4 linked regions of the Homo sapiens genome follow. The protein of the gene in region 1 purifies or fractionates together with the protein of each later gene. This does not show direct contact. Each region holds a gene or a part of one and is shown on either strand. Other genes may lie near its edges.

Region 1 (3,500 bases):
AATGTCATTCACAAATCAGTAAGCAAATTCACTTTTGGCATTGACATGAAGCCATGTAACCACACTGTAATAATAGTTGGTTTTCAAAATAAATTCAGTGCCTCATACTTAACATGATTATACATCTAGCACCATTAGCTTTATTTTATTTTACAAATGCATACTACAGTATATTTGTAAGCCACCCGGGCCTGCCAAGGGAGTTTTTCACACTAAGTAAAATCATCAAGCCTTATATTATGCTCTTCTTGAACTCCTGTTGTACTAAATGGAGCTTTCTTATTTACAATAGGCAAATCTAGTCTGGTGAGCGTATCAGTCTCTGTGTAGACTGCAGGGAGTGAGATGCTAGTTTGGTTTTGTTGATGCTGGCAAAGCATGAGACTGCATAAATGACCATTTCATTCTAAAAGAACCTAGCTGTAATGAGATGGGTAGTTTCTCCTATTTCAACTTAAAGCTTCACTCCTCTAACTTAACTTTTTGCTTGACATAGTTGAGGAATATGGTAGAAATCCATAAATAGGTAAAGGTAGTTATGAAATCTCCCCATGAATGATAATCTACCATTTGTCTTCACTCCATTACTAATTACACAGACATTAACAGTATTTTTTTAATGAGGCATTTGGGGATGTTTTTTCCTCGTAGTTAGAACATAGTTTTAATATATTCAAAATGCACATAAATATGGAGGAGAAATTATCCAAAAAAAAGTAAAATTTATATAAATGCTAATTAAGGTCGTGCATCTTGAAAGGTAAAGCAAATCTTCAGTGATTAAAAGAGCACCCAGAAGACTTTTTTTTTTTTTTTTTTTTTTGAGACAGAGTCTCACTCTGTTGCCCAGGCTGGAGTGCAGTGGCACCATGTCAGCTCACTGCAACCTCCGCCTCCCAAGTTCAAGTGATCCTCCTGCCTCAGCTCCCCCAGTAGCTGGGATTACAGGCACGCACCACCATGTCCAGCTAATTTTTGTATTTTTAGTAGAGACGGGGTTTCGCCATATAGGCCAGGCTGGCAGAAGACATTCTAACTGGGCAGAAATCTCTCCACATTAGCAAACATTTCATAATGCTTTCCACCACAAATGGGAAGGTAATAGCCAATAGCAATCTTAGAGTAATTATTGCCAATAAATTCTTATCCTATCCCAGCTTTGCCAGAGAGAATGGAGGTTGTTTACAGCCCAGGGACTGCATGCACTGAAGAAATAGGTCCAACCTCTTCCTGGTGGCCTGGGCCCATGAGGGATACTTACCAGTCATGTAGCAAGTCACTTTGCTTCCTGCTGCCTCAGGGTCCTCATCTATAAAACTGGGATAATAATCCTTATTCTGAAGGACAGATGTTGTGAGAATGCTTGAGACTGTGCGAATAAGCTTTGTAAAATGTAAAACACTCACAAAATGTAAGGCATTACTATTTGTTGTAATAAGCAGAATGGAAAGGGGCTTTAGATAACTATCCAGAAATTATTTCTCTTAGATTCTTAAGTGTTAGACTAACTTCCTATAAATGTATTCTAAGAATAACAGTCCTATAAGAACCCCCCACCCCCCAACTTTTTTTCTGAAACAGGATCTCGCTCTTTCACCCAGGCTAGAGTGCAGTGACCCAGTCATAGCTCACTGCAGCCTCAAACCCCTGGGCTCAAGTAATCCTCCCTCCTCAGCCTCCAGAGTAGCTGGGACTATAGGTGCATGCCACCACGCCGGGCTAATCATTTCATTTTTTCTGTACAGACAGGGTCTCACTATGTAACCCAGGCTGGCCTCGAATTCCTGGCCTCAAGCGATCCTCCTACCTCAGCCTCTCAAAATGCTAGGATAAGAGAAGTGAGCCACTGCCCTCAGCTAAGAAATCCCTTTTTAAAAAAATGTTGAAATCGGAGGGGTTGGGGTGAGAGGGAACTCTGTGACCAAACCATTCAGGAGAATACTGCAAATGATATTTCTTTCTTAGAAATACTGTAGTCGATAAACCCAGAGCTCCCCAAACTTAGTGAACAAGAAAATCTTTTTTTTCATATAATCCCCACTATGATCCCAAGGAATTTGTGTTGCACAATACAAAAACACATCAGAAAACTCTTAGAAAAACCTATTATCATGAGGTTAAAATAATTAAATGTTTATAAACTACAATGTGGCTTTTGGGAGGGGGCGTATAAATAGAACAAAAACTTACATACCCAGCTGTTGCAGATGATTGAGAGGGCTGGGGTGGTTTCACTGGTGTAGAACCAAGGCTCCCATTTCCCCACTGAACCATGCCCGGGCACGCAGGGGTCCTGGCACTGACTGTGTTTGTGTGCATGCAGAGAGCCTCAGCGGATCCTGGAAGGAGGGCGGCTGCGTGCCTTCCAGCACCAGCAGCAGCGGCTACTGGAGCTGGAGCGCCCCCAGCGACCAGTCCAACCCGTCCACGCCGTCGCCGCCGCTCTCGGCTGACAGCTTCAAGCCCTTCCGCAGCCCCGCGCAGCCAGACGACGGCATCGACGAGGCGGAGGCCAGCAACCTGCTCTTCGACGAGCCCATTCCCAGGAAAAGAAAGGTTGGTGGTCAGCCACGCGGTCTTCTGCATTCAGTTTCCTGAAGGTGCTTTCTGTCCCCTCTGAAGGGCCGGTGTGAGCTTAACCTTGGACCTACACCCCCTTTCTGTGGAAAGAAGCAGCTTACGTTCCTCTTTAATGTTCTTGAAGTTTGAATAGAAATTGTTATGGTGATAATTTAAAAATGACAAATACTGGTAAGTTTCCTGAAGGTATATACACACGTATCCCATCCATCCTCTGGTTATAAATTGCTGACCTGGGACTTACCAGTATTTGTAAGTTAGAAAATTGGACCTCAGGCTTGCTTCGGTATGAACTCGCTCTCTTCGTGGGACTTATTTTTTTCATATGTAAAATATAATTAATATATTTTTCTCTTTTCTCAATCAGCCCTGAAGGGTTATTGGGAAGAATATTTTGTATCTCATTTTTATGCAGTCATCTGTGAAATATACATAAAAGCTGAGATATAAACAAACTTCCATTCTTACATCCTAGAGATTATATATTAACTAAATAAAAAGTGAAAAAGGGCCAGGCACAGTGGCTCACACCTGTAGTCCCACTGCTTTGGGAGACAGAGGCAGGAAGATTGCTTGAGACCAGGAGTTGGAGACCAGCCTGTGCAACATAGCAAGACCCTGTCTCTACAAAAAAAAATTAAATAAAAAAAAAATTAGCTCAGTGTAGTGGCATGCACCTGTAGTCTCATCTACTCAGGAGGCTGAGGTGGGAGGATCGCTTTAGTCCAAGAGTTCAAGACTGCAGTGAGCTATGATCTGGCCACTGCACTCCAGTCTGGGCAACAGAGTGAGACCCTGCTGCTTTAAACAAAACAAAAAGGAGTAGAAGAAAAAAAAGACATCTAATTAATTGATTTAGCAAATTAATTGATTACACATTTGTTTAATCCTCCCAGCAGTCCTATATGGTAAGTTTTGCA
Region 2 (3,500 bases), on another chromosome or scaffold:
AATGAAGAAAATAAACAAATAATAAAGAATAATATTATACAATATATTGATTTTGGAACTTTATAGAGGATATGGAAAATATACCAAAGAAAGCAAAAGACAATTAACAATATCTGATTTACCAGAGAGGGCTTAATATTTTCTTTTCTTTCAATTTCATCCTCAATAGGCTTTTCTTCTCTTGGTATTATATTCCTCTCCTCCTCCATCTTTATTTCTTTGATCTCTGTTTCATTTTCCTCCTTAACTTTTATTTCTTTTACATTTTCACACTCCTTACATTGCTTGTTAACAACTTTCTCTGGCAATGCCATCTGAAATTCAATGTTGGCTGATCTACAGTACTCCTCAAAACCATATAAGTATCTGGAAACATGAAGAGAAATTACATTTGGTGAAAACATTTCAAAATATAACTATAGAGTTATTTTTAATGTGTATTCATTTCTTTTGTCTAAACTCTCAGATATTGAGCCATATTAACATTCTAATTTATTCTAGTTCTTTCTAATCTTTTCAATGCAAAAAAAAAATTTTGTCAAAAAATTCATTTAAAACACTGTGCTCAGAGTCATAACAATAACAGCTATTAAAAGTATTAGTAATAGCATCTATTTTTTGCACATTTCTTATGTGTGAGGCTGGACTCCTTAGTAAATCTCATTTAGTCACTACAGTAACCCTGGGGCACACAGCAGCATCCTTTTTTTGTTTTTTTTTGTTTTTTTTTGTTTTTTTGAGACAGCCTTACTCTGTTGCCCAGGCTGAAGTGCAGTGGCGCAATCTCAGCTCACTATAACCTCCGCCTCCTGGGTTCAAGCAATTCTCCTGCCTCAGCCTCCTGAGTAGCTGGGACTACAGGCGTTAGCCACTATGCTCAGGTAATTTTTGTATTTTTAGTGGAGACAAGGTTTCGCCATGCTGGCCAGGCTGGTCTTGAACTCCTGACCTCAAGTGATCTGCCCGCCTCGGCCTCCCAAAGTGCTGAAGTTACAGGCATGAGCCACCGTGCCTGGCCAAGCATTCCATTTTACAAATGAAGAAACTGAGGCTTAGGAGAATAAATAACTGGCCCTAGGGCATAAACAGTTAATAATTGGCAGAACTAGGATTCAAATGTGGATTTACTTGACTTCAGAATATTAGCTTTTTAACCTCTATGAAGTACTTGACAAATGTACTTAGCCACAAAAACTTTCTTCACAGAATTTCTCATAGATCTAGTATCATAGAATACACTTTAGAAAATACTATCATAGAATGACTACTCTAGTAAAATGTTCTGATTTCTTTAAAGAAATAATTAACCTCAGTTATAAGGTAAATTTCATCCTGCTTTCTAGGTAAAAATACTGAAGATAATCATATCAATTATACTAACTTACTTTTTATAAGCACATTTAACATTGTATCCTGCAGCTGAATTTAAGACAGGGATTCCAAGATCTTGGTAGACTTGTTTCCAAACAGCTCCACTTTCAATCTAATGGACAAAGTGAAACAAAAACTCTCAAATTAAAAGGTGTTAATATAATAACATTTTGATAGACACAGTATATATGAGTATATTTTTATATTTATTGGTCCTAGACTCAAAAGAATTTTTAAAAACTTGATAAATTCTAAATTTGGTTTAAAAATAAAGGTTTTAGTACTCTAACAAATATCAGAAAATTATAAATGTTGAAATATTAAGTCATTTGACTATTTTTTTTTTTTTTTTTTTTTTTTTTTTTTTTTTGGAGACAGGATCTTATTCTATTGCCTAGGCTAAAGTGCAGCAACAGTGGCACAAACACAGCTCACTGCAGCCCTGAACTTCCGGGCTCAAGGGATCTTCCTGACTCAACAACCCAAGTAGCTGGGACTATAGATGCACACCACCACACCTGGCTAATTAAAAAATTTTTTTTGTGGAGATGGAGTCTCACCATGTTGCCCAGGCGGGTCTCAAAGTCCTGGGCTCCAGCAATCCCCTGGCCTTAGCCTCCCAAAGTGCTGAGATTACAGGCATGAGTCACCATAACTGGCCCCATTTGACTTTTAAATAAACCCAGTTATGGAAAATGGAAAAATATTCAGGCTCTTAAATCAAAATTTTTAACAAAGAAATGGAGACAAACATTTTTAAAGGATTTATTATTTCGCATAAAATATACAGGCTAATAAATGCAGTTCTGCAGAAATTTGTAAAGTATTTTATTCCATAGAATATTCTCAATTGGATAAGTATCGTACATCACGTCAACCTTAAAATAATTTCTTCAGATCAGTTCAACAAACATTTCCTGCTTTAATCCCTTTATATTCTGAAAGGGATTAAGAATATACAGAATATTAAGACAGATCCCTGCTCTTAAGGAGCATACTGTCTAATGAAAAAGAGACACAGGAAGGATTTCCACCAATATGGCTGTGCTGTGACTCAGATAAAAAAAGAAGGTTTATGAAAGATTGACCAATTTAACAGTAATCAGAAAGCTGATATGAAAAAAAATCTTTTTTTTTTTTTTTTTGAGACAGAGTCTCATTCTGTCACGCAGGCTGGAATGCAGTCCAGCGGTGCAATCTTGGTTCACTGTAATCTCTGTCTCCTGGGTTCAAGCGATTCTCGTGCCTCAGCCTGCCATGTAGCTGGGATTACAAGCGTGCGTCACCACGTCTGGCTGATTTTTGTATTCTTTGTAGAGATGGGGTTTTGCTATGTTGGCCAGGCTGTTCTTGAACTCCTGGCCTAAAGTGATCTACCCGCCTCAGCCTCCCAAAGTGTTGGGGTTGCAGGCATGAGCCACCATGCCTGGCCTAAAAAATCTTTAAAATTTAAATTTTGTCTGAGGAGGCTAGCTGTACTTTCCACTTTATCTTCTTCTTAGGTTTTTACTGAAAAACTTTGTTTTGTTGTTTAGAAAAACAATTTCAGAGATGGCAGATACCTGAGAAAACATGTTACATGAAAAAGATGTTTCAGTTTGACTACAACACTCACATTATCAAATCCTCCAAGTTTGTGTACAAGTCTGAATAACTTAAAGAGATTCAAATTTCGATATCCAAGTACAGGTCGTTTGTTAATAGGTGTACCTGTTACAGAAAACACAAACTATATTAGATCCACACTACATTTTTAATTTAAAATTTCAAAAGATTCAAATAATACAAGTATTTATAGTATTTTATATATATATACACGTATATATATATATACACGTATATATATGTGTGTGTATATATACATATATATGTATATATATATATGAGAAATTATCTTGTTAATCAAAGACATGGTATCTACACATAAATAAGCCCATGGCCACTTTAAAATTTTTTAAATTTTAAAAACCATAACCAGATTCTTGAAACCTTTTATTTTCATTCTACTTTCTTCCCTCTGCTGAGGGAAGAAATACTAGATAACTGCTTCCCAATAAGAGTTACTTTTATGGCATTTTCTTTGTATTTTACCAATTTACTACTACTCTAAATAATGATTCTATAGTAAA
Region 3 (3,453 bases), on another chromosome or scaffold:
CAAGGCCTGCTTAGCTTCCGTGAGAATAACAGGTGTGTGTAACAACTCATCCTGACCCCAGCGGCTTCTGTGCTCAGTTAGCTAGGTGTTATTTATAATACCAAGTGTGGCTTGGGTGTCTCAGCTCTTCAAGGATTTTGTAATTTGAAGGACTGTCTAAGGCCTCCAAGCTGTCACCTGTCAGAAGAGAAGGAAGCATATGCTGGGGATTAAGCAGTCCCTGAGAGGACCCTGGGTGCTGGAGGCCCAGACAGAAAACTCACCATTGGGAGGTAGAGGTGGGAGCAGTCCTGGGCAAGGGGCCATCTGTTGAGTGGGGAAGAGGCCACTGAGCGAGTGGAAAACAGGGAGGGAAGCAAATAATGGCCATGGCTGCTACAGGTATGTTTTACAAGTCATTTTGAAACCTGCTCATTAGGACGGGATGGAGTGACAGGACTCCTTGTGAGCTGCTAGCCTCACTTGCCTATGAAATTATGAAATAATAATGAGTGCTATAATAGCTAACACTCCACAGAGCTGGCGCCGGGCCCTATTTTCAGTGCTACACACAAGCATATAACTCATTCACTCCTTACATAACAACCCTGTTATTTTTCCCATTCTACAGACAAGGAAACTGAGGCTGAGCAACTGGCCTGAGGCACGGAGCTCGTACATAAGCAGGGCTGGGATGCACCCAGCCTGGCCCCCGAGTGCCACTTCCCACGTACTCTCCCGTGGGCCACGTTCACCACATGAATGTTGGCAGGGACCAGCCTCGGGAGAACATTCAGCACAGGTGCCCTAGCAAAGCACACCCAAGAAATCAACGGCAGTCCTTGAAAAGTGGAACATTTGTAGCCAGACAGACTTCAGACACCCCAGTTAACATATTTAGGTGTCTTTTTGGTAGATAATCTTTAAGAAAACTTGTGTGGTACTTTGCTTAAGCATCAGACGGCCTTTAGAGAGCAGGCCAGCCCTTCTGCGGTTGTCTTATCCTACTTAAAAAGACAGTGGTCTCAATTAGTACAACATTTTTAAAAAGGTTCCATGTTGGCCGGGCACAGTGGCTGCTCACGCCTGTAATCCCAGCACTTTGGGAAGCCAAGGTGGGAGCATTGCTTGAGGCCAGGAGTTCAAGACCAGCCTGAGCAACATAGCGAGACTACAAAAGAAGGAAACATGTTTGAGGAAGAATGAAAGGAATGGGGCTAGAAGTCAGCAGAAGCATAATAACAATCAGAGATAAATAAGGTCAACAGCAAATGATTGAGCCCTACTAATTCATAAGTAAATATCAGGATAAAAATATTTGCCACCTTTTAAAGCTATTCATAGTAAGCTCAGGAGGAATTAGACATCTGTGAACCTCTTTACTTTGAGCCAGTTTCTTAAGTTGTAATTTAAAAGATCCATATGTTTTCTGGCTGATTCCCTTCACATTGTCTTGAGACTCTACTCCAGAGTAGTGGCTGAACATGGCGGATTAGAAATTACATTCCCCTGCCCTCCACTCTGCGTGCATTTTACTTCTTCCCGTGTACCACACCTCATATTCCCAGTCACTCAAGCAGTCTGTTTTTAGTTTCTGCCTCTTGTTAGGACACAATCTCATGCAGAGGAACTTTGTGACTACTTTGCAGGAAAAAGAGGGATAACATCACTCTCTTCATTGCATGAGAATGATGCTAAATCTGTGTGGGGTGCCAAGAGGGAATGAAGGGGGAATGTGAAGTGTGGGTGAATTACTAACACTGTAAAGAATTTGGGTGGGAGGGAGAAGTCTCTAGAATTAAAACATGAGGAAAACCACTGATTAGACCGTGATTCTCACTCCTTAGCCAGGCAAAAGAGCCCAGAGATTACCAGTCTTACTCCTGCCCACTTGCCAAGGCTAGAAACTTTCCATAACTTATGGGAAGACTTATATTAGCTTTGATGAAGTACTGATGAAGCATATTGCAAGTAAAATCCTAAGTAATGCCCAAAACAAAGCAGACACATTGTAGGTGACTTGGAGGGCCTTTAAGAACCACAGTGGCTCATGCCTGTAATCCAACACTTGGGGAGGCCAAAGTGGGAGGCTCACTTGAGCCCAGGAGTTCAAGACCACCCTGAGCAACATAGTGAGACCCTGTCTTAACAAAAAACTTAAAAGCCAGGCATGGTAGCACGCACCTGTAGCCCTAGCTACTCTGGAGGCTGAGGTGGGAGGATCGCTTGAACCCATGAGGTTGAGGCTGCAGTGAGCTATGATGGCACTACTGCACTTTAGCTTGGGTGACAGAGTGAGACCCAGTCTCAAAAACCCAAAAAACAAGAAACAAAAAAACACACCACAGCAATCTCTTAACCAAACTTTGAGACCACTGACTTGGATCATGTCCTCCTAACTCCTCTGTCTGCTGGGGCTTCATGTCTTTTCATGCAGCAGACCCAGGCTGTTCTTGAGTAAACCTTGCTCCATGCTGCCATGTGTCTGGGCTGCCCATCTGTGCTGCATGTAATGAGCTCTTGCTGCTGTGCATACTGACCATGGAAAACCATCAGCTCTGTCCGGCCTTGCCGTCAACCCCACTTAACATTCACACATGCAATTAAAAACCACCAGCTGTTAGACAGGGAGAGATGAGTGTCTCAGTATCCAAAGGCCAGTTCAGCTCTAAGACAGAGGAAGCCTTTTGTGTCTGCCAACCAAGTAACATTCTCTTGGGTCTTTCGATTTGTTTTCCAGAATGATGACAACTTCTTAAATATAATCTATGAAGCCTATCTCTTCAGCATGACTCAAGCAGCCATGAAAAAGACTATGTGACAGCAAGGCCTTTTAAAACTGATTTTCAAGGTCCTTCTAGAACTCCGGCACAAGGTTCTTTCATGTTGAGTGTTGTTTCCTTCAATGTTTCTGCCTTTTTTAAAAAAAAAGTATGTGTAATATGAAGTAAAATGTTTCAGACTTTTTTTTATACTCAAGTGTTTTTTAATTATTATTATACTTTAAGTTCTGGGGTACATGTACAGAACATGCAGGTTTGTTACATAGGTATACACATGCCATGGTGGTTTGCTGCACCCATCAACCCATCATCTACATTAGTATTTCTCCTAACGCGCTTCCTCCCCTAGTCCCCCACCCCGCGACAGACCCCAGTGTGTGATGTTCCCCTCCCTATGTCCGTGTGTTCTCATTGTTCAATTCCCACCTGTGAGTGAGAACATGTGGTGTTTGGTTTTCTGTTACTTTGTTAGTTTGCTGAGAATGATGGTTTCCAGCTTCATCCATGCCCCTGCAAAGGACAAGAACTCATTCTTTTTTATGGCTGCATAGTATTCCCTGGGTGTATATATGCCGTATTTTCTTTATCCAGTCTATCATTAATGGACATTTGGGTTGGTTCCAAGTCTTTGCTATTGTGAATAGTGCTGCAATAAACATACGTGTGCATGTGTCTTGATAGTGGAATGATA
Region 4 (3,500 bases), on another chromosome or scaffold:
CCTCTAAAAGAGCTGTTCTTGCTTCAGGCAGGTGGAGAGCACTTAAAAACAAAATGAATGATCAATATGAGGGGCCAAAGTCCTTCATTCTTTTTCAAAACATTCCTCAAAACCTTTTTTTTTTTTTTTTTGGTGAAAACCACTTAGAAATCGAATACGTCCATTTCTTTGTAAAATAACAATAACGTTAAAGGCAAAAGCAAGATTCTGTAAACCAACATTGGAAAAGGGGACACAGGGAGGGGCAGAGGGAAAGGGCCAGATTTTCAACGGTTTCCTCCACATCTGCAGACAAAGGCCCGCCTACTCTTTCTATTCCTACACAGTCATTTTCACTCTGAGTGCTAACAGGCGGTTGCCTTATGAAATATTCATGTGTCAAATATTCAATGTACACTATAAACGGTTCTTCTCTTGCTGAGTCTTGAGTGAAAACAATTTAGTAGAAAGAAAATCCAATATTCCTTCCTGAAGCCTCACTTAATAGACACGGGCACCTGAAGGGAAGGCAGCCTTCCAGTTTGAGAAGCCTAGGTCTCATGGTCTAGCGCAGTGGTTCTCAACACAGGACGATTTTGTCTTGTAAAGGAGGTGTGGCAATGTCTGGAGACACGTTTTGATTGTCATGACTCAGGGTGGTGATGGGTAGAATCTCACGAGGGGATGCTGCTGAGGCATGCTGTTAAATATCCTACAATGCAGAGGACAGTCCCCACAACAAAAATTAGCTGACCCCAAATGTCAACAGTGCTAGAGTTGAGAAAACCGGGTCCAGTTTAGTCAACTTTGAAATGGATCCTTGGGAACAGCCTGGACTAGATGTCAAGAAATCAGTGAGAGAAAATCAGAGCTGGTATGAACTGATGACTTACACCTTCATTTTTTGGGGAAAAGACTTCTCCCAAACCATTATACACTCTCTAAAGGCATAAACAAGGTTTAAAAAAAAGTGACACTGTGGTTGTATTTACGCATTCGTCAGGGGCGTCTTGCAGAAAAGCAGTGTGGTCTACTGGAAAGGGCCCTAGACTAGAGCCTCCAAACTATATACATGACCTCGGCTCTCTGTGCCTGTCTGTAAAATGATGGGGCAGTCTGACCAGTGGGTGTCCAAGCTTTTAGCTCTCAGATTCCATATTACTATAATTCACTTTTCAAATAATCCACAGCAAAACAAAAGGACTAAAATTACTTCTTAACACAAAAAGCAGACCAGGCCAGAGGTGAGAATCAGATTAGAATCCATTCTTCCAGCTTCCGCAACTGGTTTCTTTGACCTTTACCTCAGGAATGTCAGTGTCGTGCTCGGGAGAATCTCCGCCATCGTCACTTGTCTTCCTCTTCCTTTTATTTCGGACACTCTGGATGAAATTTTTGTGAAAATCACAGATATATAGGTGCCTTACCTGATGGAGACAAAAATCAAAGTCAGAGTTGGCCAATTCCTTGGAGACAGCAATAGGTATCTGTCGAATTGCGGGGCTTCCTTCCATTGCAGGGCATTGGAGAGATAGATGGAAGACAAGATGTAGGCCATCATTCCCAGAAGCTCACTACTGAGTTGCAGAACACAAAGAGAATGCTAACATCACACTTGGCAGCGTATCATACACCAAACTTCCAGTGAATGGTGAAGACAGTAAATGGTACAGATTCAGCAAAGGAAGAGATCCCTGCAACAGAGATGCTCAGGGTGAAGGGCCCTGACTAAAAGGGAGGACTTTAGGCAGACAGGAAGCATTCCAGATGGGTAGGAGTGCCAAGACTTTAGAGTTTCCAATGGAGGATGACAGAAAGAGTGAGGAGGCCCAGGGTACAGTGTCAGTTGGGTGATGATGGCTGCCCATGTAGGAGCATAATGAAAAAGTGAGGCATCAGGGGGGTGGGCATGAGAACAGCTTAGACTTTCCTTCCGACAAGACAGAGTCCCTCAAGGAAGCAGGAAGTGATGTGACATTTTTAGAAGACCTGTAGGAGTCATAAACTTATAGTCGACTGGAATGTACTGTCCTGGGGAGGAGGAAAGCAGGACACAAGGGACTGTTGCAACGGTATTTGGGACACTCTATTTTTACAATTACAATAGCTACTATTGTAGGATAATAACTCTTTGAAAAACTTTGTTTCTATGTGTCAATTTATAATTCTTGCATTATCTCACATCTGATCCACAAAGAAAAGTGGAAAAAGATGTGGAAGTTCTTACAAGGTAGAACCACATACAAGAAGGTGGATACTACAGATTTTCTAATACAGGCTGGAGGCACACTGGTAAGTGAAGGTGGCAGCAACAGCTAAGACATGAAGAATCCTCCAAGGCTGGCTGGAGGAACCACTGAAAAACTTTACAGAAACTGAATGCCCAGCAAATGACTTGGGGTTGTTGATACTGAAACAGCTGTTGCACAAATGTTCTGCAGAGACTTCTGAATTTGAGTTTATTCCTTAAATCCTTAAAGATAAAAGTAAGCTGGCAGGAAATCCGCATCAATTAATTCAGACCTTTTCATGGAGAAAATAATGAAAACTGTTTATTTATTTATTCAGATGAATGATCACTTTCATGTGGCTGGATTAGTGAGTCATAAGTACTTTTAAGTTTATACTGTGATGGTGTCTTGCAGACAGGAGGTACTCGAAAAATGTTGATGTACCAATATAGGAAGTCTCCTATATCTAAAAGTGGCTTAAGGCTAATGAAAGCCACCACTTAACATGGTTACAAACTGGGATAGCTTTGTCAGATTCAACTCTGTCAAAGGACTTTCAAACACAGCACATGCCACTGTCCCAAAGAATCCCACCTAGCTGATGTATATACTACTGGACATGCTTTTCTCCAGGAAGAAAGCACAACAAAGCACACTCTGCATCCCTGAGAGGAAGCTAGCCCTCCATGTTAGCTAGACTGGCGAGTCCACTCAGATCAACTGCTCCTCAAGTTCACAGTAACAAACTTCATAGGAGAACAGGGAGAATAGGTGGCTTCCTAAAGCTTTGGCTGGGAGATTTCAGATCAGGACAATAGAATAACGGAATCCTAGCTGTAAGAGAACTTAGCAATCACTAGTGCAATCCCATTGACCCCAATCCGTTTTCTAAATGGGTAAAATGAAGCCATCCAGAGTGAGGAAATGACCTGGCCAAGGTCACCCAGGCCTTCTGCCCCCCCAGTACATGTCTTTTCCTACTCCAGCATTTTCCTTTATACTATTCTCAACTTCCACTTTTCTCCAGGAAAAAAAAAGCAGAAATATGTCAACTGGAGGTATATTAGTATTTTAACAGATCACAGAACACTGCCAAAGTCTATATAAAATGAGTTAAACAGCCTGAATTGAATTTCTGGTGTTGTTATTTAAAAAGGTTCTCTGCTAGACTCTCTTACAAGATAAATAATCATTTTCTCCTTAACCATTTTCAAGTACATACTGGTTTTCAGAAATTTCAGAGCTCAGTGGCCTTTGGGAGTGGGGTTGGGGCAGGAGGGTGGTAGCAAA

What was found. Proteins that work in one complex are often made in the same cells at the same time.
Region 2: the proteins of ZNF704 (region 1) and ARID4B purify together in Homo sapiens (co-immunoprecipitation; 3 studies listed by BioGRID and IntAct, with this or other methods). This does not show direct contact.
Region 3: the proteins of ZNF704 (region 1) and DCP1B purify together in Homo sapiens (affinity purification with mass spectrometry; 2 studies listed by BioGRID and IntAct, with this or other methods). This does not show direct contact.
Region 4: the proteins of ZNF704 (region 1) and SAP30L purify together in Homo sapiens (co-immunoprecipitation; 3 studies listed by BioGRID and IntAct, with this or other methods). This does not show direct contact.

What each region holds. Positions count from the first base shown.
Region 1 is NC_000008.11:80,686,282-80,689,781, reverse strand, and holds part of ZNF704 (zinc finger protein 704), read left to right. Parts: intron 1-2,323; coding exon 2,324-2,556; intron 2,557-3,500.
Region 2 is NC_000001.11:235,220,180-235,223,679, forward strand, and holds part of ARID4B (AT-rich interactive domain-containing protein 4B), read right to left. Parts: intron 3,082-3,500; coding exon 2,987-3,081; intron 1,484-2,986; coding exon 1,386-1,483; intron 367-1,385; coding exon 123-366; intron 1-122. UniProt on the Homo sapiens protein: Acts as a transcriptional repressor. May function in the assembly and/or enzymatic activity of the Sin3A corepressor complex or in mediating interactions between the complex and other regulatory complexes.
Region 3 is NC_000012.12:1,945,553-1,949,005, reverse strand, and holds the end of DCP1B (mRNA-decapping enzyme 1B), read left to right. Parts: intron 1-2,719; coding exon 2,720-2,800; 3' UTR 2,801-2,953; downstream 2,954-3,453. UniProt on the Homo sapiens protein: May play a role in the degradation of mRNAs, both in normal mRNA turnover and in nonsense-mediated mRNA decay. May remove the 7-methyl guanine cap structure from mRNA molecules, yielding a 5'-phosphorylated mRNA fragment and 7m-GDP.
Region 4 is NC_000005.10:154,448,997-154,452,496, reverse strand, and holds part of SAP30L (histone deacetylase complex subunit SAP30L), read right to left. Parts: intron 1,407-3,500; coding exon 1,284-1,406; intron 42-1,283; coding exon of another isoform or gene 24-41; exon of another isoform or gene 1-23.